2 linked regions of the Homo sapiens genome follow. The protein of the gene in region 1 interacts with the protein of each later gene in a biochemical or structural test. Each region holds a gene or a part of one and is shown on either strand. Other genes may lie near its edges.

Evidence for each region.
Region 2: the proteins of LPAR2 (region 1) and PLCB3 form a complex in vitro, tested with the Homo sapiens proteins (one study listed by BioGRID).

What each region holds. Positions count from the first base shown.
Region 1 is NC_000019.10:19,620,022-19,636,250, forward strand, and holds LPAR2 (lysophosphatidic acid receptor 2), read right to left. Parts: upstream 8,200-16,229; 5' UTR 8,071-8,199; intron 7,264-8,070; 5' UTR 7,255-7,263; coding exon 6,522-7,254; intron 4,549-6,521; coding exon 4,235-4,548; 3' UTR 3,634-4,234; downstream 1-3,633. Other genes in the region: GMIP (GEM-interacting protein), read right to left, coding at 9,942-10,315, 10,450-10,516, 13,782-14,169, 14,486-14,682, 14,771-14,908, 15,004-15,192, 15,394-15,548, 15,623-15,700. UniProt on the Homo sapiens protein: Receptor for lysophosphatidic acid (LPA), a mediator of diverse cellular activities. Seems to be coupled to the G(i)/G(o), G(12)/G(13), and G(q) families of heteromeric G proteins. Plays a key role in phospholipase C-beta (PLC-beta) signaling pathway.
Region 2 is NC_000011.10:64,258,164-64,273,579, reverse strand, and holds the end of PLCB3 (1-phosphatidylinositol 4,5-bisphosphate phosphodiesterase beta-3), read right to left. Parts: intron 15,108-15,416; coding exon 14,867-15,107; intron 14,696-14,866; coding exon 14,611-14,695; intron 14,523-14,610; coding exon 14,336-14,522; intron 13,552-14,335; coding exon 13,346-13,551; intron 12,181-13,345; coding exon 12,084-12,180; intron 12,000-12,083; coding exon 11,915-11,999; intron 11,629-11,914; coding exon 11,504-11,628; intron 11,395-11,503; coding exon of another isoform or gene 11,321-11,394; exon of another isoform or gene 11,214-11,320; intron 11,174-11,213; coding exon 11,019-11,173; intron 10,934-11,018; coding exon 10,772-10,933; intron 10,083-10,771; coding exon 9,983-10,082; intron 9,890-9,982; coding exon 9,785-9,889; intron 9,560-9,784; coding exon 9,468-9,559; intron 8,630-9,467; coding exon 8,476-8,629; intron 8,389-8,475; coding exon 8,353-8,388; intron 8,271-8,352; coding exon 8,078-8,270; intron 7,695-8,077; coding exon 7,541-7,694; intron 7,455-7,540; coding exon 7,378-7,454; intron 7,266-7,377; coding exon 7,176-7,265; intron 7,086-7,175; and 7 more. Other genes in the region: integral membrane protein GPR137, read right to left, coding at 2,919-2,921; BAD (bcl2-associated agonist of cell death), read left to right, coding at 1,777-1,967, 3,243-3,371. UniProt on the Homo sapiens protein: Catalyzes the production of the second messenger molecules diacylglycerol (DAG) and inositol 1,4,5-trisphosphate (IP3).

The sequences.
Region 1 (16,229 bases):
CAGGGTGGGGCCCACGTTCTCTCCATTGCTGCTGGGGAGGAAATTCAAACACCATCTGGTATGGCTGGATTGGAGAGCGTCGGGAGACTCCAAAGGGGACGGCAGGGAGTGAAAAATGAAAGACATTGACCGAGTGTCTGGACAATAGGGAAAGCTCTCTGATGAAGGAAACCGACACTTGGCTCCAATGACAGAAAGTAATAGATTGCATGGGAGCCACGGAGACCAGTGCCTGTTCAAAAGGTCACCCACAAGCACAGCACTGCCCAGGAGGCCTGAACAGTAGTGGCCTTCAGGCTGGGTGCAGTGGCTGACACCTATGATCCCAACACTTTGGGAGTCTGAGGTGGGAGATTACTTGAGCCCAGGAGTTCAAGACCAGTCTGGGGAACATAGTGAGACCCCATCTCTACAAAAATAAAAATTAAAAAAATAGCTAAATTAGCTGGTCATGGTCCCAGCTACTTGGGAGGCTGAGGCGGGAGGATAAGTTGGGCTCAGGAGGTCGAGGCTACAGTGAGCTGTGTTTGTGCCACTGCACTCCAGCCTGGGTGAGAGAGCAAAACCTGCCCCCAACCCCAACAAAGTAGTATCCTTCAGAGAACTTGGAGGGGTGGGCACTGAAAGCTTCAGGGACCAGCAGAGACAAAAATTTGAAGCCACTTGGTGGAGACGGGAGATCGACAAGAGGAAATGGTCTCGAAGGAGACCCACGGGGTGCAGGTTAAAACCTGGAGGAGCTGATGTGAACAGCCAGCTCAGAGCGCCTGAGACAGAGTTGCCTTTTTTTTTTTTTTTTTTTTTTAGACAGAAATCTTACTCTGTTGCCCAGGCTGGAGTGTAGTGGCGTGACCTTGGCTCACTGCAACCTCCACCTCCTGGGTTCAAGCACTTCTCCTGCCTTAGCCTCCTCCTGAGTAGCTTACAGGCACCCACCACCACGCCCGGCTAATTTTTGCATTTTTAGTAGAAATGAGGTTTCACCATGTTGGCCAGGCTAGTTTCAAACTTCTGACCTCAGGTGATCTGCCTGCCTCGGCCGCCCAAAGTGCTGGGATTACAGGTATGAGCCACCTCACCCGTCCCACTGTTGCCATTTGGAGGTCATCAGGGGTCTCTACTGCATAGAAATTAGTTGGCAGCCTTGGCACTCAAAGTGCTCGGCCAGGGCCATTTAATATAGAAGGACCTGGGAGTTTTGGGTTCTTTGACAATGCATATTTCAGTGGTTTAAGAATTTGGCACAGGTGGCTGGGCATGGCGGCTCACATCTCTGAGTGACCTGGGTTCAAATTCTAGCTGTTATTCAGCATGGGATTCAAAAGTAGGGACATAACCCCACCTCCTCACTGGTGAGGTGGGAGCAGAGAATGACATCCTGGCACACACTGTGCCTTGGAGGGGGCCTCCCTGAGCATCTCAGAGGGGGCTCATGATGGATCTGGCACTCATGGGTTGGGTGCTGTGGGGTGAGGTAGGGAAAGCCCAGCTGAGCTTGGGACCAACCCTGGGCTTCGTGGGAATCTGAAGTCCCTTTCCTAGGGGCCTCTCTGGTCCCTCGGGGCCTGTATGTGCCATCTCCAAGCTGTGTTTACCATGGGCCAGATCACAACCTGTCTGAATCAGTGTTCTCACATAAAAATCAGAAAGACTGATCCCAGCACTTTGGGAGGCCAAAGCAGGCGGATCATGAGGTCAGGAGTTCAAGACCAGCCTGGCCAATATGGTGAAATCCCATCTCTATTAAAATACAAAAAATTAGCCAGACATGGTGGTGCATGCCTGTAGTCCCAGCTACTTGGGAGGCTGAGGCAGAAGAATCGCTTGAACCTGGAGGGGGCGGAGGTTGCAGTGAGCTGAGATCATGTGAGACTCTGTCTCAAAAAAAAAAAAAAAAAAAAAAGGCCAGGCATGGCGGCTCACGCCTATAGTCCCAGCACTTTGAGAGGCTGAGGCGGGCGGCTCACCTGAGGTCAGGAGTTCGAGACCAGCCTGGCCAACATGGTGAAACCCCATCTCTACTAAAAATAAAAAATTTAGCTGGGTGTGGTGGCATATCCCTGTAATCCCAGCTACCCGGGAGGCTGATGCAGGAGAATCACTTGAACCTGGGAGGCAGAGGTTGCAGTGAGCTGAGATCACGTCATTGCAGTCCAGCCTGGGAAACAGAGCAAGACTCCGTCTCAAAAAAAAAAAAAAAAAAAAGCCCAGCACAGTGGCTCATGCCTGTAATCCCAGCACTTTGAGAGGCCGAGGCGGGTGGATCACAAGGTCGGGAGTTCAAGATAAGCCTGGCCAAGATGGTGAAACCCCATCTCTAACAAAAATACAAAAATTAGCCGGGCACGGTGGCAGGTGCCTGTAATCGCAACTACTTGGGAGGCTGAGGCAGGAGAATCGCTTGAAACCCGGGGGCGGAGGTTGCAGCGAGCCGAGATTGCACCACTACACTCCAGCCTGGAGGACAGAGTGACACTCCATCACAAAAAAATAAAAAATTTAAAAAAAAAAGCACCTAAAGTGTTTACCAGTATGCCAGGCACATCAGAAGAGCTTGAGAAATGGTCATGCTCAAATCCTGCATCCCACTACCTGAACCCCACAACCTGTGGCTGGAAGTATGAATACAGGTGGTGGGGAATGGGATAGAAACGGCTGGGCACGTGACCTTGAACCATCAGGGCTCAAACAAAAGGGCAGTGGGGAGGGAGGGGGCTCATAGGGTCCAGACACTACTCTGAGCTGCAGAGAAAGACAGGGAGACAGGCAGTGAGATGGAGGCAGAGCAACAGATGGGGGAAACAAAGAACAGAAGCAGAGAGAAACAGATTCAAGACCCCAGTAAGAGAGAGGGGCCAGGCGTGGTGGCTCATGCCTATAATCCCAGCACTTTGGGAGGCCAAGGTGGGTAGGTGGATCGCTTGAGGTCAAGAGTTCGAGACCAGCCTGACTAACATGGTGGGACCCCATCTCTACTAAAAATATAAAGATTAGTCAGGCACGCGGTAGCTCACACCTGTAATCCCAGTACTTTGGGAAGCTGAGGTGGGTGGATCATTCAAGGTCAGGAGTTTGAGACGAGCCTGGCCAACATTGGTGAAACCTCATCTCTACTATAATACAAAAATTAGCCGAGTGTAGTGGCAGATGCCTATAACCCAGCTATTCGGGAAGCTGAGGCAGGAGAATCGCTTGAACCCAGGAGGCAGAAGTTGCAGTAACCTGAGATCAAGCCACTGCACTCCAGCCTGGGTGACAGAGCGAGACTCCCTCTCAAAGATAAACAAACAAATAAATAAATAATAAAAATAAAAATACAGAGATTAGCTGGACGTGGTGGCACGCGCCTGTAATCCCAGCTTCTCCTGAGGCACAAGAATCTGGAACCTGGGAGGTAGAAGTTGCAGCGAGCTGAGATTGTGCTACTGCTCTCCAGCCTGGGCTACAAAGTGAGACTCTGTCTAAAAAAAAAAAAAAAAAAAAAGAGAGAGATGGAATAACAGCCAGCCAGACTGAAGAAGAGCGAGCACAGGGCCAAGGAGATACCATGTTGAAAGATCCTTTCTGGACTTGGGCCAAGGTAGACAATTCCGGGACACAGGGACAGAAACACTGAATTGATAACAACAAATGTTTTGGAGACCTCAGAGTGTAAAGAAAGGTTTACTCCTTGTATCATCCCCTCCCCGTGGACTGCTTCAATTCTATCGGGGACAGGCCAGTCCCTGGAGGCTGCAAGGAGCCACAAACCTTTCCCAGCTCACACTCTGCACCCCTCAGTCTCTGCTGCTAAAGAATCAGACTCAGGTAGATGGGGTGTCCACAGTCTGTCCTCATTACCCAGTCATACCGGGTAGCATGGCCCGAGAGAGCCCTTATCTCTCCCCACCTTAAAACCCTCAGCATCACACAGCAGGAACCAGTCCACAGGGCTTACCAAGGATACGCAGTGAAAACAGAATAATGTCTGTTACAAACCCCCTAAACCTGAGATGGCTGAAGAGCCAGATTCCTGCACCCCATCTGACTCCCCCAGGCAGTGGGAGATGACCCAAAGCCCCCATTCCCTGGGCAGAGTGGTGTGCCTGGGGAGGCCTGGCAGTGGTGCTGTGCCATGCCAGACCTTGTCCTGCCAGTCAGTCAGTCCTGTTGGTTGGGTTGAGCCAGGAGCACCCACAAGTCATCAGGGGCTGTGGATTTGTTGCTTGCCGCGTACCGCTGAAGTTCAAGGTAGCTAAAGGGTGGAGTCCATCAGTGGGTGGCCGTTCTCGGGAAGCATGATGCGAGTGCTGGCACCTCCCTGGGCAGAGGATGTATAGTGGACAGACTCGCGGGTGGACTGGCGGAGGCACGCGCAGCAGAGAAGGCGGCGGAAGGTGCGGCGCATCTCAGCATCTCGGCAAGAGTACACAGCAGCATTGACCAGGGAGTTGGCCTCGGCCAACAGTAGGAAGTACTTTTCTACAGCCAGGACATTGCAGGACTCACAGCCTAAACCATCCAGGAGCAGTACCACCTGGCCTGGTGTCCAGCAGACCACGAACGCCCCTGTGGGACAGAGGCGGAAGTGAGCAGGGCAAGCTGTCAGAGGCCCGGCACCTACAGCTCTCAGTTTGGGGTTGGAGTGGTCTCCAGAGCTCGAGCAATAGTGGTGAAGTTTGCAGTGCAAGAGCTGCTTGTTTCCCTGATTCTGCAGTGTGACAGGAAGGCCTGCTAAGATGGGACATCTATGCTAATTGGTACACAGTGGCCAAGGCACTGGACATTTTGTGTGTGTGTGTGTGTGTGTGTGTGTGTGTGTGTGTGTGTGTGAGATGGAGTCTCGCTCTGTCGCCAGGCTAGAGTGCAGTGGTACAATCTTGGCTTGCTGCAACCTCTGCCTCCCAGGTTCAAGCAATTCCCCCACCTCAGCCTCCCAAGTAGCTGGGACTACAGGTGTGTGCCACCATGCCCGGCTATATTTTTTTTTTTTTGTATTTTAGTAGAGATGGGGTTTCACCATGTTGGCCAGGATGGTCTCGATCTCCTGACCTCGTGATCCGCCCGCCTCAGCCTCCCGAAGTGTTGGGATTACAGGCATGAGCCACTGCGCCTGGCCTGTGTGTTTTTTTTTGAGACAGGGTCTCCTTCTGTCACCTAGGCTGGAGTGCAGTGGCACGATCACACCTCACTGAAGCGGCACGATCACACCTCACTGCAGCATTTGACAGGCTGAGGCAGGACAATCACTTGAGGCCAGGAGTTTAAGACCAGCCTAGGCAATATAGTGAGACCTCGTTTCTACAAAAAATAAAAAATTAGCCAGGTATGGTGGCACATGCCTGTAGTCCCAGCTACTCAGGAAACTGAGGCGGGAGGATCACCTGAGCCCGGAAGGTTGAGGCTGCAGTGAGCTATGATGGAGCCATTGTAATCCAGCCTAGGCAAGAGTAAGATCCTGTATCTTAAAAACAAAAATAAATTTTGAAATTTAAAAATATGGGCCGGGCGTGGTGGCTCATGCTTGTAATCCCAGCACTTTGGGAGGCCAAGGCGGGTGGATCACGAGGTCAAGACATCGAGACCATCCTGGCCAACATAGTGAAACCTGGTCTCTACTAAAAATAGAAAAATTAGCCAGGCATAGTGGCACGCACCTGTAGTCCCAGCTACTCAGGAGGCTGAGGCAGGAGAACCACTTGAACCTGGGAGGCAGAAGTTGCAGTGAGCCGAGATTGCGCCACTGCACTCCAGCCTGGGTGACAGAGCGAGACTCTGTCTCAAAAAAAAAAAAAAAAAATTAAAAATACATATAGATTAAAAAACAATTTAAAGGCTTTTTGTTAAAACAGGCTTAGCACTGCTAAAAACTCCTTTTTTTTTTTTTTTTCTGAGACAGAGTTCTGGAGTTTCGCTCTTGTTGCCCAGGCTGGAGTGCAATGGTGTGATCTCGGCTCACCACAACCTCCGCCTCCTGGGTTCAAGCAATTCTCCTGCCTCAGGCTCCCGAGTAGCTGGGATTACAGGCACACACCACCATACCTGGCTAATTTTGCATTTTTAGTAGAGATGGGGTTTCTCCATGTTGGTCAGGCTGGTCGTGAACTCCCAACCTCAGCTGATCTGCCCGCCTCGGCCTCCCAAAGTGCTGGGATTACAGGCGTGAGCCACTGTGCCCGGCTAGCACTGCTAAAAACTCTTAAGGGGTTCCCATGAAACTCAAAATAAGACTCCTGTCCGTGCCCCTTAAGGCCTTGCTGATCTCTCCTCCTCACAAGCCCACTTTCCTCTTTAGAGGCTCTGGCCTCGTACTGCCTTGAGGTTTTTACTTTCCGTTTCCTCTGCCTGGAAGGCTCTCTGTTCCTATCCTCAGCATTCAGGCCTCTGCTCACATACATTATCACCTCCTTGGAGGACATTCCCCACCTAAATCATCCCCCATCACCCTCTATCAGGTAGCTTGTTTTGTTCATTGCTTCGCAGTGTCTTGTGGGAGATAGGGGGAAGCAGGGTCCCTGTTGCCCCCTGGGGGCCCCACTTACCCAGGATGATGACAACAGTCTTGACCAGGCTGAGCGTGGTCTCTCGGTAGCGGGGGTGGCAGCTGACATGCTCTGCCATGCGCTGCACTCGCCGCCGCACGTAGAAGAAAATGCGGGTGTACACAGCCACCATGAGCAGGAAGACAAGCAGGCTCGACAGAGCCCAGACGGCCAAATAGGAGCGGCTGAGCAGGGGTGCCATGCGTGAGCAGCGGTCCAGGGCACAGAGGCAGTGCCAGGAGTGGGCAGGCAGCAGCCCCAGGCCCAGGGCAGCCACCCACACGCCCACAATGAGCATGACCACGCGGCCACGGGGCAGGCGGCTGTGCAGCTGCACGGCCATCACACTGCGGTGCCGCTCCACGGCGATGGCCAGCAGTGTGGCCACCGACGCAGTGAGGCTTGTGTCCAGCAAGCCCTGCCGCAGGAACCAGCCCTCAAGTGAAAGTCGGGCTGTGCGGGGACCAGTGTGGAACATGAGGAAGAGGTAGGCCACGCCCGCGAAGAGGTCAGCCGCGGCCAGATTGCCGAGCAGGTAGTAGATGGGCTGGTGGAAGCGGCGGTTGGAGGCGATGGCTGCTATGACCAGCAGATTGGTCAGCAGCACCAGCACGCTGACGGTCAGCCCCAGTGCCACCACGACCACATCCTTGGGCCGCCAGTGGGAGCTGAGCTCTTTGCCACTGTTGTTATAGAAGAAGCCGATGGTCTCGTTGTAGTAGCACTGGCCCATGATGACCATCTGGGGACACAAGAGATCAGTGCATGTGGCACTTCTTGGAAGGACACAGGGAGGGGCGGCAGCTGCAGAGGAGGGTCAGCGCAGGAAGGACAAGGGTCTCAAATTCAGATACCTCGAAGCAAAGTGGCAGTGGTGAGGACTACGGTGGCCTGGAAAAAGCAAGCTCCATGGGGCTGGGGTGGAGGTGGAGGAGCAGCTGTTTCTTACCTACTAATAAGACCTGTGTGCAAGACATCACCCAAGTCAATAGGTTTTTGAACCAGAAGTGAAACAAAACCCATCTATGGTCGAATCCCAGCCCACCTGCCGCCAATGTGTGACCCGGTTTGGGTTGTGGGGAGAGGAGGGTTAGGGAAAGACAAAGGGGTGTGAGCTGCGGGAAGAGATGAGGGAGGATCACTTTGGTGCCGGAGTCAGTGTAGGGAGCAGAGACCCGGGAGCGTGTGCACACAAGGGTGAGGTCACTTGCTAGAACCCTGCGAGGGGGCGGTGCCGAGGCGTGGAGGTGATCGGAGTGGACAGAGAGGCGGCCCCAGAAGTTAGTCGGCGGGATTTGGGCGCGAGTGCTTCCCAAGCGGGCGGGGCAATAGGCTGTTCCGGGTGGGACGGAGGACACTGGCGGTCTCCGGGACAAAGACAGCGGTTGGGGAAGGGATGGATGGCCGGGCCTCCAGGCGTCTCCAGACTGGGGAAGGGGTAGGGGGTTAAGGGATCAGAGGGCGGCGTCCTGGCCCCGCAGGCACGTGCCGCGCCCTTCCCCCGGGCCCAGGCCCGCACCCGCCCGCCTCCCGTCCGTGCAGGCCTCACCTGGGCCTCCAGTCACGCCGCAGACAAGGCGGGCTCGCGGGGGTTCGGGGCGGGCTCGAGGCCCATGGCCCGGCGACTGCGGCGGGAGCGGTAGAGCGTCCGGGTGCGCCCTGTGCGGGTTGCTGAGAGGGCGCGGGAGGCGGGGTCTCCCCGGCGCCCCGCCCCCACCACCTGGGGGAGCCCTGCCCCGCCCCGCCACCTGGGGGAGCCCCGCCTCCACGGCCGCGTCGGGGGCGGTGTCGCCCGGAACCGCAGCCCCCCTGTTTCCTCCCCGCCTCGCGGCCCCTCAGTCGCCCCTATTTCCGGCGCGGGACCCCCACCCCGGTACCTGCACACCTCATGCGCCCGCAGTTTCGAGCCTGCGGGGCTGAGTCACTCGGCGACCCGAAAATTCCCGCCGTGACCCCGCGCTGCCCGGGCGGAGCTCCAGGTGGTCTTGGGTCCGCGCCCCCGCTCCGGACCCCCAACCCTCCCAGCCCCACCCCGCTCTCTTCTTCGTGTCCAATCGGCCGCCGAGTTACAAGCCACTCCCTGATCCGACTTGGCTCCCACCGCCCGGACCCCCGCCCAGCTTCGGCTTTGCCAGCTCGCAGTATCAGCGAGCCGCGGCCTCCTGTGCGAGGCCCACCTCTGCGGCCCCAGCTGATCATCGGGCGCACGCTAGGGTTTTGCAATCCCGCCCCCGTACCCCTCACCCTGGGACAGCGCTGCCCCCTGCAAAGCCCGGCCCTGCCCTGCCCTGCCCTGTGGCTTCCTCCCTCGGCCTCCCTGCGGCGGCCCCGGGCTCCCACGGTCCGGAGCACACAGCCCCATTGTCCCGGTTATCGGTACTTTGTTATACTGTATTTGATTATGCAGGACCGGATCGGGGACGCAGAGCTCCGGGAGGGCCGGGCTGGCGTGACTCAGCCGGGTGCTGCGACCCAGCTCCAACTGCCTTTACGTAGGTGCTGCAGGGTGTTTGATGATGCAAGAAGGAGGCCTTGAGGCCGGGCGCAGTGGCTCACGCCTGTAATCCCTGCATTTTGGGAGGCCGATGCGGGACGATCACGAGATCAGGAGATCGAGACCATCCTGGCCAACATGCTGAAACCCCGTCTCTACTAAAAATACAAAAAAATTAGCCGGGCATGGTGGCAGGCGCCTGTAGTCCCAGCTACTCGGGAGGCTGAGGCAGGAGAATCGCTTGAACCCGGGAGGTGGAGGTTGCAGTGAGCGGAGATCGTGCCACTGCACTCCAACCTGGAGACAGAGCAAAACTCCGTCTCAAAAAAAAAAAAAAAAAAAAAAAAAAAAGAGGCCTTGATTCCCCTAATCTGTAAAATGGGGGCAAGGAGTGCTACCCATGCTGGCCTCTCCCCTAGCAGAGATGCACCCAAGGGCATATAGGACACAGTTTATTAGAGGCCATCAGACCTCAGGCACCACCAGCATGTGGAGTCTGAGCTGCCCACCTCCTCCAGGAAGGTCACTTCGAGTCCGTGAAGGAGGCAGGCAGGTGTGGGGGAGTGACCACAACCAAAGTAGCAAAAGCACCCCTGTCCCAGGTGTCAGAGACTAGGGTGGACCCCAAGGATCTCATAACCTGCACTGACCCTGAGTATTGACCCTGAGTGACCTCTGAGCCCGAGTGGCCCTGATGCTTGGCAGTGACCTGTGTCTAGTGGGGGGACTCTGGGACATTATCCCCAAAAGGGTTTTAGGCCTCCCCTAGGTCATGTATTAAATAGTTTTTCCTTATAGGAACCCTCTGGACCTCTCCCAGCATTGAACTCCTGGCGGGGTGTTTGGCCACTAGGTGGTGGGAGGTAGGGATATATGGGTCCGTCTTCACAATCTGGGCCTCTTCCTTATTTAAGGTGCCAGGGTGGTCAGAGATGGTCCTCGGCTTCCTCAGGCTGGACGTCCGGGCAGCAGGTGGCCCTGGGCACAGCCTCGCTGTCCAATTTCGAGAGTAGCCGGGCTGTCTCCTGGGTAATCTCAAAATGCTTGGGCAGCGGGGTGCGGCGCAGGGGGCTGCCCTCAGGGGAGGCAGCTGCAGGGCTGGGCCCCCGCCCCCGCAAACTCCCTCTGGGCACTGATGTGATGGGGGTCTCCTCGCACAGCTTGGAAGCCACCAGGGCCAGACTGGACAGCTGGTGGGTTACAGGCCTCACACCGCCCCGGGGATACTTCACTGGCTGGCGGCTGAAGTGGCCACGAGACTGTGTCCCCAGGAGTGAGTCCTCTGGGCCTTGGCTGGACACTGTGTACGGGGTGGGTGGTCAGTGCAGAGCACCTCCAAGTTCTCTGTATATCCCCCCAGGAGTCATCTTTTAGCAAGCCACCCTGGGGCCAGGGCACCCCCAGAACTCCTGAGCCTCTCTCTAACATACTCACCTTCCCCTCCCCCATCTTTGGTGTCTTCAGCCACGTCCTCTCTCTGGTCACTCTGTGGAGTTGGAATCTGCAGGGAGAAACCCAAGAATGAGACCCCAACACTAAAATCCCAGTTCTTTGAGATTCCTGGAGAGCCAAGGGCTTGTTCCTGGACATGCAAAAGGAATAGCCAGTGCAAAGGCCCTGAGGTAGGAGCATGCCTGGTATGTTAGGACGCAGCCCCACCCTGTAATGAATGAGGGAAAGGTGGTAGGAAGTGAGACCAAAGAGGAGTGGGCCCAGGTGGCTCTGCCAGCCACCCCTGACTTTGCACCTACTCTGCACTGGGTGTGGACTACCATTGAACTCCTCCTATGCACAGGGCATGGACCACCACTGACTGTGCACCTGTCATCCTTTGCAGTTTTGGTGTTTGGGGATAGACGATGCCCTTATAAGTGTACTGCTTGGCCAGGCATGGTGGTGCATGCCTGTAATCCCAGCACTTTGGGAGGCTGAGGTTGGTGGATTATCTGAGGTCAGGAGTTCGGGACCAGCCTGGCCAACATGGTGAAACTCCGTCTCTACTAGAAATACAAAATTTAGCCGGGCGTGGTGGTGCATGCCTGTAATCCCAGCTACTAGGGAGGCTGAGGCAGGAGAATCGCTTGGACCTGGGAGGTGGAGATTGCAGTGAGCTCAGATCATGCCCCTGCACTCCAGTCTGGGTGACAGAATGAGACTCCGTCTCAAAAATAATAATAAGTGTACTGCTTGCCCTTCCAGCATAGAGCAGTGTCATTCATTGAGTCTGGACCGTGGGCTCCATGAGGGTGGGAAAATCCTTGTTTAGCAAATGGCCAGCCCAGGGAGTGGCTCAGCCCTCTCCACATTAGGACCAGGTGGTGCCTCTGAACTACTATCCTGGGCTGCTCTCTGCAACCTTACCAACTTTACTGTTCCATCCTTAGCTAAATGGTTGGCAGTGTCTACACATCAGACACTGTCCCGAGCACTTTATGAGGCATTCCAGCTCTCAGAGACCCACAGTTCACCAGCAGCCGCTTCCCAGCTCTGGGCTGCTGCAGGAGAGATCCTTGCTCTCAGGAATGGCAGATGCAGCAAGATACCAGCAGCACAGGCCTTGGGCATGGACTGTTCTAGCAATCCGGAGCAGCGGGTGCTGCTATCTTCCTGGTTCACAGCTGAGCTCTGGATCCAGACTGGTGACCTTTGTTAAAGATTCTACGCCAGGCGGCCGGGTGCAGTGGCTCCAGCCTGTAATCCCAGCACTTTGGGAGGCCGAGGCGGGTGGATCACAAGGTCAGGAGATCGAGACCATCCTGGCTAACACGGTGAAACCCCGTCTCTACTAAAAATACAAAAAAATTAGCCGGGTGTGGTGGCGGGTGCCTGTAGTCCCAGCTACTTGGGAGGCTGAGGCAGGAGAATGACGTGAACCTGGGAGGCAGAGCTTGCAGTGAGCCAAGATGGCACCACTGCACTCTAGCCTGGGTGACAGAGCGAGACTCCATCTCAAAAAAAAAAAAAAGATTCTAGGCCGGGTGCAGTGGCTCATGCCTGTAATCCCAGCACTTTGGGAGGCTGAGGAGGGCGGATCGCCTGAGGTCAGGAGTTTGAGACCAGCCTGACCAACATGGAGAAACCCCTACTCTACTAAAAATACAAAAAAAATTAGCTGGGTGTGGTGGTGCATGCCTGTAATCCCAACTACTCTGGAGGCTGAGGCAGGAGAATCGCTTGAATCCAGGAGGTGGAGGTTACGGTGAACAGAGATCACGCCATCGCACTCCAACCTGGGCAACAAGAATGAAACTCCGTCTAAAAAAATAAAGGATTCCAACTGCGGCCGGGTGTGGTGGCTCACGCCTATAATCCCAGCACTTTGGGAGGCTGAGGTGGGTGGGTTACTTGAGGTAGGGGGTTGGAGACCAGCCTGGCTAACATGGCGAAACCTTGTCTCTGAGGCATTAGAATTGCTTGAACCCGGGAGGCGGAGGTTGTGGTGAGCCGAGATCGCACCACTGCACTCCAGTTGGGCAACACAGTGAGATTCTGTCTCCAAAAAAAAATAAAAGATTCCAACTGCTTACAGTCCCCTTTTAGGGCCATTAACTGCTCAGAGCCTTCATTGTTTAATCTGTAAATGATTTTCATTAACACTGTCTACCTCTCAGGACTGTGGAGAGGACAACAGGAAGCCTCTATAGTGTCCCCTGCACAGCAGGTGCACATTCAGTGGTGGTCTGTGCCTGTGAATAGCAGATGCAAGGTCAGGATAGCTGGCAGAGCCACCTGGGCCCACTCCTCTTTGGTATCACTTCATACCACCTTCCTGTCATTCATTACAGGATGGGGCTGCGTCCTAACACACCAGGCACGATCCTACCTCAGGGCCTTTGCACTGGCTGTTCCCTTTGCCTGGAACACCCTTCACCTGATCTCCATGTTGCCAGCTCACTCCTTCATGTCCTTCCAGTCTTTGCTCAAGTCCGTCTGCTCTCTAAGACGTGCCCCCACCATCCTACTTAGTGATACAAACTCCACCTCCCACCGTGCTGCTCCCTGGTGTCATGTGTCTTACTCCACTTTTTTTTTTTTTTTTTGAAACAAAGTCTTGCTCTATTGTCCAGGCTGGAGTGCAGTGGCATGCTCTCGGCTCACTAAAACCTCTGCTTCCTGGGCTCAAGCGATTCTCCTGCCTCAGCCTCCTGAGTAGCTGGGATTACAGGTACACACCACCACACCTGGCTAATTTTTGTATTTTTAGTAGAGACAGGTTTCTCCTTATTGGTTGGATTAGTCTCGAACTCCTGACCTCAGGTGATTTGCCTGCCCCAGCATCCCAAAGTGCTGGGATTACAGGCGTGTGCCACCGCGCCCAGCCATTACTCTACCTTTTCATGATCCATTACCCTTATCATCATCACCTCATCACATTCCAGATAACTGACTTTGTGTCATGTATATGGTTGTTCTTTCCCCACTAAAACACAGGCACTGAGAGGGCAGGGTCTTTGGATATTTAGCTCCTGGATGTATCTGCAATGCCTACGACAATGCTTGGCCCAAAATACATGTTCAATAAATATTCTGTTGGAGGAATGAATGATCACCCATGTTAGTACCTCTGCAGGGCTGTCCCCTTTTGTTACATCATCACTGCCCACTGCTCATTCCTCACTATTCCTTCCAGAATGAACATAAGTTAAATGAGGAAGGGAGGAAGAGAATGAAGGAAATTTTAAAAAGGAAGGAAGGTGAAAGAGAAGGTAAGAGAATTGAACAGAGATAAGGCCCTCTCCATAGCTGTGGGCCCAGTGGGTTCTTACCTCGGTAGGTGTGGCCGTGGGATGCTGCTCCAGGGTACTGTGGTGCTGGGGGTCTGGGCCGGGGTCTGAGGCTAGGACTGGGGGCTGGGAGTCTGGGTCAAGGTGCGGGGGTGGCGGTTGGGAGCTGGTTGTGAGGGGCCCAGGGGCTGGGCTGGAGTCTTGGGGCGGGGGCTCAGTGGCCTGGGGGAGCTCATCCATCCCAAAGATCTGCTCGTAGTGCACGATGAGGAACTCCACAAGCTGGGCCTGATGCCCAGAGTCCAGCAGGCAGGTGACAGGGATGGCGCTGGCTGCCCGCGGGCCGTCCGGCGGCCGCAGCAGTGTCGGCCCAAACACAATGCCCAGGTTGTTGGCAGACATCTTGTTTTCCATAAATCGTGCAGCCACCCTGGGGATGGTGTGAAGAGAAAGGTCAGGGTACAGGATGCAAGCTCATTGGTCTGAGGGTAAGGGTGGGACACGCAGGCCAGCCTAGAGGTGACTTGCCCATGTCACAGGTGTAAGTCGTCTGAGACCAGCAGCCACATATCCAGAACTGGAGGTCAGGGGTCAGTACCCAAAGTTATGAATCATGGATTAAGGTTCAGAGTTCAGAAAACACAGGTCAAAGGTCAGAGGTCAGTGTCAGGGGTCAGCCAGGGAAGTTAGTAGTCGCATGTCCAGGGAAAAGGGTCGCGTTTCAAGGCTCAGGGACCCATGCACACCTGAACAGATGGGCCACCAGGTGCCGCAGGGTGTTGTAGTTAGAGTCAGGCAGCTGTACCAAGAGGGTCTTCAGCGAGCGGATAACCTCAGGGCTGGGGCTGGGGGTCCCAGGGTCGTCCCCAGGGTCTGCATGCAAGGTCTTAGCCAGAGAGATGAAGGCGTCGTAGAGGTGGAAGGGGATCACGGGCTCGGTGAGCTGGGGGTGGAACGGAGGGCGCAACACGAGTGTGGGTGGGCTGTGGAGGGCTCCTGCCCGCGTCCCCCTCAGTGTCCTGAGCACCAACCTCCTGAAGAAATCGCTTGAGGACACTCGAGACGTCATGAGGCGAGTTCCCCGACAGCTCCACCAACGCTCGGCCATTCTCGAAAGCCTGGCACAGCCGCTCCACACGGACCCGGGACCCGCTGACCCGGTAAATGCCCTGCAGGGTGAGGGTGAAAAACAGACACCTGGTTCGTGATAGGCCATCGATTCGGTCAGGTCACTTCTGGGGATGATGAAGGGTCAGGGCAGCACCTGCACATCCAGGGCACGGTGTTCTATCTCAGCCGTGCACTTCGTGACCACAAAGGGTACCTCCTCCGGGAAGTCCCTGGGTAGCTGCAGGAAGTCAACCCCAAAAAGGGGTGTCCGGGCTGGGAGCCGCCTGTGTCCACAGAGGATCAGGAGAGTCTCCAGGCAGCGCTTGTGGCAGGTCAGAAAGCACTGTGGGGAAGGTCACAGGGACAGGGAGGTCATTAGGGACCAGTAGGGGAAGAGAAGGTTACAAGGATCCTCAAGGAATGGGGGCTCATGGGAGACATCAGGTTAGGGTGGGTCCCAGGGGCAGAAAGGCTGTAGGAATCTCAGGTCAGGGAGATGATCAAGGGTCAGCAAAGGTCATTTGGTCATTAACCCAGGCCACACCTCCTCACACTCCGTCCCGCTGACCATGAAGGCTTCGCACTCGCGGCACTTGGCTGGGCCCCGCAGTCGCCGCAGCTGGTGGGTCTGAGCCGCGCTGGACAGTGTCCACTTCCCGAAGGGGCTGCCCAGCCCATTCTCCAGCCCGTCTCCCAGGTCTGCAGGGAGACAGGGTCAGGAGTGCCTGGTGCCCTGCCCTGTCCCATCCTGACCTACCCTGCTTCAGCCTCACCAGGGTCTCGCTCCTCAAAGTCATCTGAGGACTCAGTGCCTGTGGACGAAGCCTTCACCAGCTGCCTCGTGCCAGCGCCTGGGGTCAGAGGAATCATGGGAGATTCCTGGGCTATGGGAGGCACTCCTGGTTTTTAGGGCTTCCAGAACCACCCACTAATTCCCAAGGGGTCAGAGGTCAGGAGGGGGATTGGACAGGTCAGTGGTTAAGGGTTGGAGAATTGGGTCAGCAACCTGAGGGGGGTGGTTCATAAGCTGGATCAAGAGGTTGAGGAAATAGGCCGGGCGCAGTGGCTCACACCTGTAATCCCAGCACTTTGGGAAGCTGAGGCAGGAGGATCACATGAGGCAAGGAGTTTGACACCAGCCTGGCCAACATGGCAAAACCTTGTCTCTACTAAAAATACAAACATTAACCAGGCATGGTGGCAGGCACCTGTAGTCCCAGCTACTCGGGAGGCTGAGGCACGAGAATCGCTTGAACCTGGGAGGCGGAGGTTGCAGTGAGCCAAGATCGTACCACTGCGCTCCAGCCTGGGCAACAGAGCAAGACTCTGTCTCAAAAAAAAAAAAAAGAAAGAAAGAAAAGAAAAGAAAAGGCCGGGCGT
Region 2 (15,416 bases), on another chromosome or scaffold:
TGTCATTGCACTCTGAGTGTTTGCTCAGGGGAGTGGTTCTAAGTCTTTATCGGTCTGGGTAGAGGAGTGGAGTTGGCAGGAGTTGGGAGATGGCACAGAGCACAGTTCAAATAGACCATAGTAGGCGGGCCTCTGAATAATAACCCATAGTGCACTTGCAGCCTACAAAGCACTTTCTTTTTTCTTTTGTTATTATTATTATTATTTGAGACAGAGTCTCGCTCTGCCACCCAGGCTGGAGTGCAGTGGCACAATCTCGGCTCACTGCAACCTCCACCCACTGGGTTAAAGCAGTTCTCCTGCTTCAGCCTCCTGAGTGGCTGGGACTACAGGCGTGAACCACCACACCTAACTAATTTTTGTATTTTTAGTAGAGACGGAGTTTCACCAGAGTTTGAGGCCAGGCTGGTCTCGAACTTCTGACCTCAGGTGATCCACCTGCCTTGGCCTCCCAAAGTGCTGGGATTACTGGCGTGAGCCACCACGTCTGGCCTTCTTTTATTAATTTTTTAAATTAATAGAGATGGGGTTTTGCAATGTTGCCTAGGCTGGTCTCGAACTCCTGAACTCAAGCAATCCACCTGCCTCAGCCTCCCAAAGTGCTGGGATTACAGGCGTGAGGAATCACGCCCAGCCACAAAGCACTTTCACATTTTTTAATTTTATGTGATGTTCACACAGCCACTGGGAGTCAGGGCTAGGATTATCCCCTCATAAAGGTGAGGACACAGGCTAAGAGAGTCGAAGGCTGGCTAGACAAGGGGAGAGACACAGAGCTCCGCTGATCATCACTGGACTCTGGATTCCACCAAACCTTTGGAACCTTCCAGCCTCAGGCCTCCACAGCTTCACAGAAACTGGGCAAGTCTTAACTCTCTAAGCTTCTGTCTTCTCACCTAAGCATGTTTGGTACTCACCTCCCAGGGTGGTTAGGAGGATAATAAGGGAATGTCTCGGCCTACACGTAAGTGCACCATCAATGGTACCTAAAAACGTCAACAGTTCCAGACACTGTCTCCAGAGAAGGCTCTGTGGGGGATGCGGACATGTAGCGGCCAAGTTCTTGTTCTCCAGGGGCTCTGCAGGTCCCTTGCAGAGGAGGCATTCAATCCTGCCGGCTGTGGCAGGACACTTTCCTATCCAAGGGATTGGCTTCCTCCGATGTAGAACAGACACTATGAAATAGCTACCAACCCAGGGGTTGCCAGGAGGCCCCATGAAGGTCTTGCACTAATAATACTTCTTGCTTTTTTTTTTTTTCTTTTGAGAAAAAAAGCCTGTCGCCCAGGCTGGAGTGCAGTGGCGTGATCTCGGCTCACTGCGACCTCTCCCTCCTGGGTTCAAACGATTCTTCTGCCTCAGCCTCCCGAGTAACTGGGACTATAGGCACGTGCCACTATGCCCAGCTAATTTTTGTGTTTTGAGTAGAGACAGGGTTTCACCATGTTGGCCAGGATGGTCTCGATCTCCTGACCTTGTGATGTAACTAGTATTTCTTATGCCCTTATTTTGTGCTAGGCACAGGGCCTCACCCATTATTGGCACTCGGTAAGGATTCGTGGGATTAATGAGAAGTTAACCTAAATCTTCACCAAAGGCCCCTGAGCTTCCCCTCGATTCACATACAAGGGACTGGGGCTCTGAGAGGTGGGCTGTGATGCGCCCCTGGAAGACCCACGAGTGGGCCTGCAGAGCTGATGGGGAGGGTTCAGGCAGGGCCAGGGGCTTAGAGGAGCTGAGATTAACGTCGCCCCCCTACCCACTGACCCTCTGCAGGCGCTGGGGCTGTGGAGATCCGGAGTCGCCACAGCTCCTACCCCGCGGGGACGGAGGACGACGAAGGGATGGGGGAGGAGCCCAGCCCCTTTCGGGGCCGCTCGCGCTCGGCGCCCCCCAACCTCTGGGCAGCACAGCGCTATGGCCGCGAGCTCCGGAGGATGAGTGACGAGTTTGTGGACTCCTTTAAGGTGAGCGCCAGTCCCCAGCGTGCCAGGACCTGAAGTACCAGGCCGCCCCCCGCCGGTCTGTCCCTGCCTTGTCCCAAGGCACGCCCGGATCTGGAGTCCCACGACCCCTCCCCAAAGCCGTCCTGTTCCTTCCTAGCTCCAGAGCATTCTGGGATTTGTAGTCACAAGACTTCCCCGCCCCCACTCCCCAGCTCTTCCCCCGCCTGGTGTGTGTGTGTGTGTGTGTGTGTGAGTCACAGGGCATGCTGGGATCTGTAGTCTAGATCCCACTCCAGGCGTGTGTGTGTGTGTGTGTGTGTGTGTGTGTGTGTGTGTGAGAGTCACAGGGCATGCTGGGATCTGTAGTCTAGATCCCACTCCAGGCGTGTGTGTGTGTGTGTGTGTGTGTGTGTGTGTGTGTGTGTGAGTCACAGGGCATGCTGGGATCTGTAGTCTAGATCCCACTCCAGGTGTGTGTGTGTGTGTGTGTGTGTGTGAGAGAGTCACAGGGCATGCTGGGATCTGTAGTCTAGATCCCACTCCAGGTGTGTGTGTGTGTGTGTGTGTGTGTGTCAGTCACAGGGCATGCTGGGATCTGTAGTCTAGATCCCACTCCAGGCGTGTGTGTGTGTGTGTGTGTGTGTGTGTGTGTGTGTGTCACAGGGCATGCTGGGATCTGTAGTCTAGATCCCACTCCAGGCGTGTGTGTGTGTGTGTGTGTGTGTGTGTGTGTCTCACAGGGCATGCTGGGATCTGTAGTCTAGATCCCACTCCAGGCCAAAGCTCCTGGGTTCCCCGAATTCTTGGAAGACCAGGCATGCTGGTATTTGTGCTCCTTGCTGGCACCTGTGCGCTCTGTCGCCCAGGCTGGAGTGCAGTGGTGCGATCACGGCTCACTGCAGCCTGGAACTCCTGGCCTCAAAGGATCCTCCCGCTTCAACCTCCCAAAGTGCTGGGATTACAGGCGCTCACCATCGCTCCCGGCCCTTTGATTCTCGAATTGCGGTCTCATCTTCTGGGTGCTAGGTCTCCAGCTCTGGCCTTTCCATTTAGGGCCCTAGGCATCCTCTCTTCCCGTCTCCGGCACGGAGTTCCTGGGATCTAACCAGTTCCCATTCCTGGGGGCCCATGCGTCCTCGCGAGCGTCCCTGACCGCCCGGCGTGGAGCCTCCTGGGAGTTGTGGCCTTCATTATCTCCCCCCCGATCTCACTTAGAGGAAGGCTCACGGAAGTGGAGAGCCTGGCTCGAGCTGCCATGGTAATCTAACTCATGTAACCCTTTTCTCCCTCCACCAGAAGGGACTTCCTCGCCCGAAGAGCGCGGGCACAGCAACGCAGATGCGGCAAAGCTCCAGCTGGACGCGAGTCTTCCAGTCCTGGTGGGATCGGAACTTGGGCAGGGGAAGCTCCGCCCCCTCCCAGTGACCTTCGCTCCACATCCCGAAACTCCACCCGTTCCCACTGCCCTGGGCAGCCATCTTGAATATGGGCGGAAGTACTTCCCTCAGGCCTATGCAAAAAGAGGATCCGTGCTGTCTCCTTTGGAGGGAGGGCTGACCCAGATTCCCTTCCGGTGCGTGTGAAGCCACGGAAGGCTTGGTCCCATCGGAAGTTTTGGGTTTTCCGCCCACAGCCGCCGGAAGTGGCTCCGTGGCCCCGCCCTCAGGCTCCGGGCTTTCCCCCAGGCGCCTGCGCTAAGTCGCGAGCCAGGTTTAACCGTTGCGTCACCGGGACCCGAGCCCCCGCGATGCCCTGGGGGCCGTGCTCACTACCAAATGTTAATAAAGCCCGCGTCTGTGCCGCCGAGGCTTTTCTGTGCGTCGACTGGGGCTCCGGCAGGCCGGGGTAGTGCTCTCACGGATACTTTCAAAAGAGGCCGCTGTCTTACGAGGGAAACTTAGGCTCTGCCTGACATCCAGCGACAGAGACGGAAGGGGTCGCGGCGGCTCGCGGGCCTGGGCTGCGCGGCCCAGGTCCAAGTCCCCAGCACGCGCATTGGGACCGCAGCGCTGCCGGCAGCCCGATCCCGCGCTCTGCAAACCGTGCCGCGGCCCCCCAGAGAGGGTCACTCGCTCCTATTTGGGTCAGCCCTTTCCAGCAGCTACTGTGTGGCCGGCCCGGGGCCAGCGCCGCCCGGGTACCTCGCGGGGCGGGAGGGAGCGGCTGAGCCAGGCTGGCAGCAGCGCGGTCGCTGGAAACTGAGGCTTCATGCGGGGACCCGGACAGAGCGGGGGCTCCGTTCCAGAAAGATTTATTGGCGCCCCCTATAACCCGGGCCGGTTCTTGGTGCCGGGCACAGAGATGCATTGCGCCACGGCCCTGCTCGCGGAAGCTCCCGAGGGCCCGGAATCGGCAGGGCAGTCAGAGAGGGCTTCAGGGAGGAGGCAGCTAGAGCTGCGACCGGAAGGTGAGGTGAGGGTCATCCCCCCCGGCGCAAGGAGGAGTGGACCCATGGAAGGACAGGGGAGCAGCAGAGGCCAGGCTTCTAGGGGCTGGAATGTCACACCCAGAAGTTAGACATTCAGCTGGTATTTGAGGACCTGGGAACTGACTTGGAGTGTGTCCCTCAGTGGACACCAGCTAGAGTCAGGAAGGTGGGAGTTGGCTGCTGAGGAGCCTAGATACGGAATACACTGGAGTGAGCAGAACTGGGGGATAGGGCAGCGTCCCACAGAAGAAGTGAGGAAGTCTGGGGCCATTGCATTGACCCTGAGGGAGGAGGGCCCTACTCCGGAGCCTGTTTCCCTGGCCTCCCCACCCCATCTGTTTGCCTGAGGCTGCAGCAAAAACAAAGCAAAGAAGATACTCAATTGGCAGGAGATAAGCCCAGATAAGAGGCCGCCTTCCCCTGGAGGAGGGATGCAGGCGGGCAGCCTGGGAAGAGCCAGGAAGCTGGGAGAGGCCTTGAAGAGGTGCCAAGCCGACCCTGCTGCGAGCCCAGCCCCGCCCTGGAGCCCGCACTGTGGGCTCTCTGCCACTTTTCGCTGGTCTTGAGGCATGGGACAGGTCCAGGCTGGCTGAAGACAGTCCACCACGGAGGGTCCAGGCCTGCCCTGCCTCCAGGTCAGGACGTCTTGACTTAGCTGTGGCCTAGCACACGACAGATGGCTCCGGGCCTCAGTCTCCTCATCTGTAAAACAGGCATAACATCTCCCTCACAGGGATGAGGGGATGCTGGGTGGCCCAGCCCCTGCGTGTCTGTGACTGTCCACTTCCCTTCCCCCAGAGTCACAGGCAGGCCTACTGCCCACCTATTTCTGAAGACCCAGGTCCCCCGGTGTTGGGCAGGTTCTGAGCTGCCCTGCTCCACCCTGGCCGATCCATCACCTGATAGAGTCAACTGCCTGTCGGGGGCCCAGAGCAGCCCCAGCGGAAGATACTAGGCGTTTGGGTCATATCAGGCCACAGGAAGCGGGGCAGGGAAGGCTTCCTGAAGCAGAGGCCTGAGCCTCAGAAAAGAGAGAACAGGGAGAGCCTCGGAGAGACGAAAGTCATGGGGATGGGGGAACAGGAACAGCGGCTTGGGGGCAGAGGGCACAAGCAGAAGGCCACGGAAGCTCAGCAGACTCGGCAGGGCAAGCTCAGGTTCAACCCAGCAGCCCTTGGCTGGAGGCGTGACCTCAACCCCACCAAATGCCCAAAGTCCATTTTATAGATGAGGAAACTTAGGGCCCAGAGTCCTGTCACCCCAAATCACACTGCACACAGGGTCCCTGAAATCCACTTTTATTCATGTAAAAAAAATCCCCAAAGAATAGAGAAAAAAATGTGACTCCTACTTCCCGGAGCTCCAAGTCTCCAGCCAGCTCTCCCGGGGAAGGGAGGAGACGCTGCTAGCTCGAGGGTGTGGGTGTCACAGGGAGCAAAGCCCTGACCAAGGCCCTAACCTAAGACTGAGGGCAGGAAGGAGGGGCCCCAGGAGGATGAAGGGAGTTAGCTGAGGTACTTGCCCCGGGTTTAAAAAAATAAAATTTCTAGATAAAAAGTTAAAAAAAAAAAAAAAAAGCATTAGTGTCATTGCCTCCTGCCCTCCACCCAGCGCCCGCCCTGGCCCTGTGGCCACCTCGCTCAGCCAGTTCAGAGCTGCGTGTTCTCCTCCTGGCTCTCCGAGTCAGCGCCCGACAGGTGCCCGCTGCTCCCGGGTGCGTGACCGTTGCTGGCACAGGCCACCAGAGGCCCGTCCCCCAGCCCCTCCGGCATCTCGCCCAGCAGGCTCCGGCGGATCTCCTGGGGGAGCCTCGCCCGCTGCTCCTGACACTCCTGGGCCAGCTGGGCCAGCAGCTGTGGGAGAAGGATGGGCATCACAGGCGAGGCCTGGCTGCCTTGCACCCCGTCTGCCCACCTGTTCGCCCATGGCCTCACCTTGGGCTCCTCTTCTGCCAGCTGTTGCAGGACCTGCTGCTGCCCAGCCACAAGACGGTCATGCCGCTGCTTCTGGGCCTCCTCCAGCTACAGGGGTGGGCAAGGGCTCAGCTGAGGGGCCCTGAGGGAGGGGCTAGAGCCTCGAGGCTCTGGCTGGGTATAGAAGTCAGGTGGGCGAGGCCGGGTGCAGTGGCTCACATCTATAATCCCAGCACTTTGGGAGGCCAAGGCGGGCGGATCACCTGAGGTCAGGAGTTCGAGAACAGCCTGGCCAACATGGTGAAACCCCATCTCTACTAAAAATAAAAAAATTAGCCAGGCATGGTGGCGGATGCCTGTAATCCCAGCTACTCGGGAGGCTGAGGCAAGAGAATTGCTTGAACCCAAGAGGTTGCAGTGAGCCAAGATCGCGCCACTGCACTCCAGCCTGGGCGACAGAGTGAGACTCTGTCTCAAAGAAAAAGAAGTCAGGTGGGCGAAGGCTCCCAGGGCAATGTATCAGGGTTGTGAGAGGACTGGGCCCAAGGACGCCAAAGCCAGGGACACTGGTACAGACAGTTGGCTTTGGGTATGATGTGGGTACCCTGGGGCTGTTGGGCACTTGAGAAAGGCCCTAGAAGAACCTTGAGGGCAACGTGGCACCAGGCCAGGCATGGAGATGGGTGTCTGATGAGTGAAGGAAGGGAGGTGGGGTAGGGTGGCCCGGGAGCCTGACTCACCCGACGGATGGAGTTGACTGACTCAGTGATGTGCCGACGGTTAATCTCCGTCAGTTCCCTGCACGGGAGCAACGCAGGATGGCTCGGGGCCCAGACACCTGCCCTGCCTCCCCAGTACCCAGATGGCCCCCGGTCCCGGTGCCCTTACGCCTCCTTCTTATGCTTGTCCCTCATCTTGGCCTCCGAGATGCTGTTATGGCGCTTTCTGTCCAGGATCTTCTGCAGCTCCTTCTTCTCCCTGGAGAAGCCGGCAGGGGAAGAGGAGGGGTCAGCGGCAGAAGCACAGACTCTGCCCTCCTTCTGGTACTAGAAGTCCCCAGCCCTTCCCATAGACAATCCTCGGCTTTCACCTCTCGTTCATCTCTTTCAGCCTCTTGAACTGAGTTGTGTTTGCATCAAGGACGACCTCCCTGAGCCGCTGCAGAGCCTGTGGACACAGGGAGCTGACAGGTGATGCCGGGCTGACGACGGGTCTATCCAGCAGGCTTTCCCTGGCCACTGCAGGCCCCCTACCTGTCTCAGGTGTTCCAGCCTCCGCTGGGCCTCTGCGTCCACCTGGGCCTCCCGCAGCTCCAGCAGGCTCTGCACCTGTCTGTTCTGGAACTCCTGATACCGCTTTGCCTCGTCCTCCCCCTCCTTCGTGTCCTCCACATCAGCGGCCCCACCTCTGCGAGGAGAACCCCTCTGGGTGATGCCTGGGCCCGTCACATGGACTGGGATGGGGAGGGTGTGTAGGGGGGCACATCCTGGCAAGCGATGGCAGACACCATCCCATGGGGCCAGGTCTGTTATGCAAACCAGGAGGCCTGTTAGCTCCACCCAAGTGATGGGAGCCTGTTTGGGCAACATGCTCCTCATGGACTTCAAAAGAGATGTCACTCCCTGGGGGACACAGGGACGCCTGGTGTGGAAAGCCTCCTCCATCCTTGCACTGAACCCTCCTCCCTGGGGGTCAAGGAGCAGCTCTTGCCATCTCTCCATGCCCACCGACCCCCATGTTCACATCAGCACACCCAGCACACATAGCACACAGGCGGCCCAGACACTCACAGGGCACCTGGCCGCAGCCGGCACCTGCCCTCAGCCTGTGCCTGAGCCAGGCCATCCAGCAGGCGGCGGGTGAGGGTGACTGCCTTCCGCTGATGCTTCTTGCGCAGCTCCCGCAGGTCTCGCTCTTGCCGGCTCCGGAGCTTGACCAGAGCCTTGTGACCTCGGAGCTCATCCAGCGGGGTGGGGGCCACCTCTGGGAGCGGCAGAGCAAAGGTGGGCGGGGGGTGGGGGAACCTGCAAGGCAGCCCCCTGCCTCCAGGTACCCCGCCCCCTACCTGAGAGGATGCTGGCGATGAGATCATCACGCTGCCCTGGGGAGCAGAGGCCCTGTGAGGAGCTGGAGGACAGGGTGGGGGGTGCCTCCCTGCAGCCCACCCCCGACCCAGGCCACTCCTTACCTGGGCTGCTGAGGGAGGTGCTGGCAGGGGAGGTGGTGGGGCCAGGGGGCCGGCGGGGGGAGGCATCCAGTGGGCTGGGGGTGGGGTTTGAGGACGGCTGAGACCCCAGCTGCTGAGACTGGGTGTCCTGGCACGTCTCTTGGCCAGCCTGAGCCTATAGGGAGAAAGGAGAATGCTCTTTTCAGAAATGCTGTTCCCTCCAGACCCTTCTGTCCTCTACCACCTCCTGGGTCCCCTAGCACCCCTGTCAGCCTCCCTTAGTCCAAGCCACTGCTGGACTGCTCTGTAACAGGAGGCTGTCTGCATGAGAAGAGCTATAAATCAAGCCTTTCTAAACCCCTTTTCCACATGGGCTGTGGGGAAGATAACATAATGCCAGCCCACTGCATGTGCTCAGTAACTCCCAGATTGTTCTGGAAAGGCCTGGCCCAGCCCCAAGCCTCCTCTCCTCCCCTGCCTGTGTCCCCCAGCCTTGCCTACAGTCGCTCATTTTCCTTGCTGCTGAGCTCCTGATTAAATCAACAGAGGACTCAACCGCAGAGTGGGCACCAGCCTCTCCGCTAACAGCTCCAGGCAGCCCTAATTGCAGTCATCTCTCCCCGCCCGCCTGCCGCAGGCCCTGGGGGGACTGGATCTGGAAGCGCAGGTGAACCTCCGTGCCTGACCCCTCCCCACGGAAGCCACTGCCCTCCTCATGACTCCCAGGACACCACGTCTGAACAGCTTCTGTGGCTTCGCACTGCCCTGATGAAGTGGCTGAGACCCCTGTACCCCCACTCCAAGCCTACATGGAGCTGGAGGAATTCCAGCCCAGGTGTGACCTGAAGGCCTCCTGAATGCAAATGGGTGGTTTTCATCTCCTCAAAATCCCAGGGCTGCCAAGCCTACTGCGCTAGAGAGACCAGAAGCCCCCTCCTCATGTGGCCACAGCAGTCATGTCCAGCGGCCCCCTGGGTCACAGTGAGCCTGAGCCCTGCCCTGCCCCGGCTCACCTCACTCTCCCCAATGAGGGCGGCCAGCTGCCGGGCCCTCTGGTCCATCAGGCTGACGTGCTTAATGGGGTTGATCAGGGCCTCCGCATAGTCTGGGGGGAGGCAGAAGGCCAAGGTCTCAGAGACAGAGCCCCCAGGCCACCCCCACCCGCCACCTCTGGTCTCAATGAGGAATTCCAGAGCTTGTCCTCAGATCTGTTCCCTACTCAGTTCCCTACTCAGTCGGGGCCATCCAGCTCGGCCACTCCCAGGCCCTGGGGGTGGCCCTTGTCCCTCACACTCCCTGGCCAGGCAGGCCCCGCCCACCCCCAGCTCACCCTGGTGGTCGTCAGGAATGTAGTCCGAGGCTTCGGTGTAGATGAGCAGGGCCGGCAGGCACAGCGGTTGGTTGGCCTCGTTCCGCAGGCAGACGTAGTGGTATCCTGGGTGGTCAGGAAGGCAACGTTGGGTTGCTGGGCCAGGTGGGGGCCCTACCCACTGCCCGCTGTGCTGCCCAGAGCCCACCAAGGCCTCACCGGAGCGGATGGCAGAGACAGGCAGGATCCGGTGCCCTACGAATTTACCCCCCTCCTCAAAGGCTGCAATGCGAAGTGAAGCCAGCGTGGGCAGCACCACCTGTGGGCCAGACTGGAGCTGAGCCACAGGGCTGACCCTGGGCCACTGTGGCTACCAGGCCACAGCTAACCACAGCCATCAAAGCTTAACAAAGCAGACCTTCAGACGAGCTGACCTACTGACCATCAGTCACCATTGCCACTAAGCTGATGGCTGACCCCACTTCCATGTCCTGGCCTAATGGATGACTGCAGCCATCAGGACCCTGAGGCAAGATGACAGGCAGCCAGGCCCCTCCAGGGCCCCCACAGACAGTTCTGGTCATTGCCAGTTTAGAAACGGGAGTGAGTCATGAGCAGGAAACCAAGAACACACATGCCCAGGCTGGGAGCAGAGGCCGCGTCCATGCAGGGCCGTGCGGGGTGCTGAAGAGCGGATATGAGCTTGGGGTTGTGACCTCAGCTCCTGCCTCGGAGACAGGGTAGGCTGTGTCCACTCCTCGCAGGGGACACAAGACGTCTAGCTGACACCCCCCAACCCCCATCTCACCTTCTCACCCTGGTCTCTTACCCTAAGGAGGGCAGGGAGACTGACGCTCGGACAGGCAGGTCCTGGGGGACCCATGGCACCCCCCACTTTCTGATCCCCAGTCGCCAACGGTGTGCCTGGTTCCTGTTCTCCCACCTGAGAGTCGGGGCGGTCTGGGCTGGATCTGCCTGTGCCTGGGCGGGTGCAGGGGCCAGGCTCACCTTGGGGAAGTCGAAGGGCTCTTCGTCCCACACGGGGTTGAACGAGTTCCCCTGAGAGGTCCGGGTGCGGTACTTGCGCCGCGTATCAACAGGGAGGCCAAACATGTCCACCTCCACGTAGATGCCCACCTTCCTGTCGGACAGGAACTGCCCTGAGATCACCTGGGGGTGGGCCAAGGAGGGTGAGGCGGATGCTGAGAGTCCTGCCCCCAGGACACCCCTGGCCTGAGCCGCCCGCAAGCCCCACCTTGACCCGCAAGGCATTGGCCACGATGCCATCCACGATGACCTCAGTGAAGGGGTCGAAGGACTTGTCCGGCCGCCGCATGAACTCCGGCTTGAGCAGGTACCCGCTGCGCCCGTTGTACTCAAAAACGCCCGCGTTGAGCTGCATCGCCACATCTGGGGTGCCACGGGCACGTCGAGCAGGGGCAGGGATCAGGCAGGACGGTGCCATGTGGGGAATGGGAGATCATCAGGTCAGATGGCATCCAAGGTCCAGGGTCAGGGGCGGGCTCAAATGGCATCAGGGTCCGGATCCAGGACAGATCAGACAGGGGAGGGGTCTGGTATCAGCCAAGGGCAGGAGGCGGGGTGAGTCGGGAGCTGGGTTCCCCTGGGATCTGGGATGAGACAGGGTCAGAGGTCCATTCAGGCAAGACCAGCAGGATCGTGGGTCAGAAGTCAGTAAGACTGAGGGTCGGGGTCAAGATGGAGGGGGCCAGGGCTCACCGAGGGTCTGGAAGTTGAGCGCAACAAGCTGGCACCCTACGTTCCAGAAGAGCTGGGGCATGTAGTTGGAGGAGTCCACGCGGGTGCCCTTGGGGTAGATGCGGCTGAGCTGCTGCTTGTTGTATCTGAGATTGGTGGTCAGGGGCCACACAGGTGCCAGGGCCCACCCCATCAGCCTCCACCTCCGGCCTCAGCCAGGTGCTCCTGTGACCCCCACACCCGGCCTCTGTTTCTTAGCCTAGCCATGCCCCCTGAGACTGCCTGGATCTGCCCAAGCCCCAGGCCAGGGTGCAGGAGGGCCGCCGGAGGGCCAGCACCCTGTGCAGGTGGCATATGTGGGGACAGAACACCGGAGCCGGCCTCCGAGCGCCCCACCCTGGCCTGCCCGCCCACAGCACCTTCAAAGGATACTCCACAAACTCCATGGGGCTCTTGGTCAGTTGCTCCATGGCCTTGGTCTCCACAAAGGACGACATCTCGAAGCATTTGTTCCTCTCTTAGGGGTGAGCCAAGAAAGGGCGTCAGACCTGGCAGGGCTGAGCTGGGCAAGCTCCCATGCCTGCCACCCACCCCCACTCACTTCGAGCAGCCTCAAAGGACTTGAACTTGACAGGTTCGATGTAGTTGACAAGCGTGGACATCTCCTCAGTGGCATTCACCTCGCTGCTGGCTGTGCCCTGTGGGCCCCAACCCAGGGTCAGCAGTGCCATTCCCGCCACAGCTGGCCATTCCCTCACCTGCCCCCCATGAAGGAGGTGCTGACCCTCTTCCCAGCACTATATACACACTGCTGGTGGTGCCGACAGTCTTCTCCCCGGGGTCTCACTGATGCGCCCTGGACACCACCCAGCTCAAGCAATTTTCCTGCCTCAGCCTCCCAAGTAGCTGGGATTACAGGCGCCCGCCACCTTGCCCGGCTAATTTATGTATTTTTAGTAGAGATGGGGTTTCACCATGTTGGCCAGGCTGGTCTGGAACCTCCCAACCTCAGGTGACTCGCCCACCTCAGCCTCCCAAAGTGCTGGGATTACAGGCATGAGCCACCTCGCCTGGCCCATATAGGTGTTATAATTATCATTACTTTTACTGAATCATTTGGGAGTAAATTATAGACATCATGACCCTTTACCCATAAATACTTCAGCATATATGGACATTCTCTTCTATAACTCCAATACAATAATTAAATTCAGGAAACAAAACATTAACATATTATCTAATATGTAGTCCATCTTTAAATTTCACTAATTGCTCCAGTAATTGTCTTTATAGCAATGATGTCTTTTTTTTTTTTTTTTTTTTTTGAGATAGTGTCTCCCTTTTTAGCCCACGTTGGAGTGCAATGGTGCAATCTCAGCTCACTGCAACCTCCACCTCCCAGGTTCAAGGGATTCTCATGCCTCAGCCTCCCGAGTAGCTGGGATCACAGGTGTGAGCCACCACGCCCAGCTCAGACTGATTTTTTCTGTACCATTCCTCACAGCTACTCAATGCTCCCCATGACAATGCTCCCCGCTCCTGCACCCCCTGGCCCTGCCCCAGGACCTTTGTACATGCTGTCCCCCTTCCTGAGGTCTCCCTGCCCCACCTCCCTGCCCAGGGTAGACTCCCTATCCTCTGCCAGTTCTGTACCCTAACTCGCACCTCCCAGGCCACATCACCAGCAGAACTGTATGCTTGTTTCCATGCCTGATGACTGAAGAGCCCTCCTCCCACCTTCACTCACACCCACACTGAGCCCCAGGAGGCAGGGGTGATGTCAGTCTTGTTGATGGTCAGACCCAGCCCCCTGGGAGGTAAATAGATGCTACCTCCCCGACCTGCCCACCCTGTGGGCCTGACCTCATCTGTAGTTGGCTTTTTGGGGTCTGTCTGTTCCTCCTCTTCCTCATCTTCCTCCTCATCCTCACGGTCAGCAGGTCCAAGAACATAGGGGCCTCGGTTCAGGCCCTCGTCACCCAGAGACTTCTGAGGCTCCAGGCTGGGCTTCTCAAGCCCTACCTCCTCCCCATTGCTCAGGCCTGGGCAGCTGTCAGAGCTGGGAGACCCTGCAGAGGACAGGGCCACAGGGTGAGGGGTCAGGACCACACAGCTGCTTAGGAAGTCTGGAGGGGTTTTTCCCAGTGTGTGCCGAGGTGACTCAGTGGGGAATTCAAGGGGTACTCTCAGGGCAGTGTGGCTTGGGGAGAGGCCAAGAGGTCGAGGTCAGATGGTATTAACCCAGTATGGGTTGAGAGGGGTCATAGGTCAAAGGTAAAGGTCTGCAGTGATATTCAGCAGGGAGGCAGATAGGGTGGTTCAGTGGGGTGAGAAGTCAGGAAGTAGCATACCACAGCCCTAATAGCGGGGTAAGGGATGACATAGAGAGGTTACAGGTCAGGGGTAAGTCAGAGCCATGTCTAAGGAGGGGGCATAGTGAGGTGAACAGTCAGGGGTGAGAGGTCAGAGGTCAGCTGAAATGATAACCAACTGGGCAGGTGAACTCAATGCGGGCTTAGGGGTCTGAGGTCACACCCAGTGTGGGATGTGGTTTACTGAGGTCAGAGGTCAGCCTTCAGAGCCATCACCGGGTTGTGGGAAGGCTCTGAGAGGTGAGAGGCTGAGGTTGGGAGTCAGGAGTTGGGGTGCAGCTGGGTGAGACGTGCACCTGAGGTCAGGGGTCAGAGGCCCCACACCAGCCGACAGGTGGTGAGGAGACAGGCCGGTTGTGGGAACAGGCGCACAGCGAGGCAGGAGGGTGGGCTGGGGGTCTGGGATGAAGTGTCACGGCGCCTGGAGCATGAGGCCAGAGGCTAGGGTCAAGTCAGGGTGGCGGGCCGGGCTGGGGCCTACCCAGCTGCGGGGAGGAGGGCTCGGTGGCCGCGGAGCTCTCGCTCAGGGCAGAATTGCTCTGCTCCAGGGGCCGCTTGCGCCCGGCGCTGTCTGGGCCACCTGCGCTGGGTCGGTGCCGCTTCTTGTTCTTCACCAGGATACGGCCCATCAGGTCCTGGGGGCTGGGCAGGGGAACGCCTGGGGCCAGCTGGGCAGGCATGGACGAGTCAGGGCCCTGGACCGGGTCCGCAGCACCCTGGCCCCCATGCCACCCCCCTCGCTCCGAGCTCCCGTACCGGGTACTTGTCCAGAGGCTCGATGAGTAGCGCGTCTCCAAAGATGGAGCGGCAGTACTCAGCCATCTTTGCCTGTTGCTTTGCCCTGCGGAACCGAGGTCAGAGGTCAGAGATCCCTCCCCCAGAGAGGAAGCTGAGGTCTACGGGACATGTCAGTGGCCGTTCGCAGGGTTGGAGGTCCCTGAGCAGTCCAACAGCACTGAAGCTGGAAGACTGTCCCCCGGTCCATGGGGTTTCATGCCAGGGGCTCACTCACGAGTCCACATGGTTCTCGAAGGAGAGGATGACGGGGTAGGGCGAGGTCTTGAAGGCAGTCTCGGCAATGGCCTCCAGCACGTCGCGCAGAGGCACCTCTGTGGTCATGGTGAAGCCGTGGGTAATGAAGGGTTCCTCCTCAGGCGGCCGTCCCTTCCACACGTCCAGCTCCACGCAGCGGCAGCCCCATAGTAGTGCCTGGCGGTACATCTCCACCGACGAGGTCCCAGCCAGCTGCCCCGCTGGGGCGGCGAGGCTCTGTCACCGAGGCCGCCCACCAGCCCAGCTCCTCACCACCCCGGCCCCACCTGGAACCAGGACATGCTGGATTTGCAGAGGGCTCTCCATCTCTCAGATGGATACCCACCACCTGTCCATCCCACCAGCGTGAGCTGGGGGGAGTCATCCCTGAGACTCACTATAGCTCCCCACTGCCTCAACAATCCCTCCCTCTCCTCACTCCCTCCACCCACCTCAGCCCTGGCACAGCTCACACCACCTCCTGTGTGGAAGACTCCAGCCCTCCCTGCCTCCAATCCAATCTCTTTTTT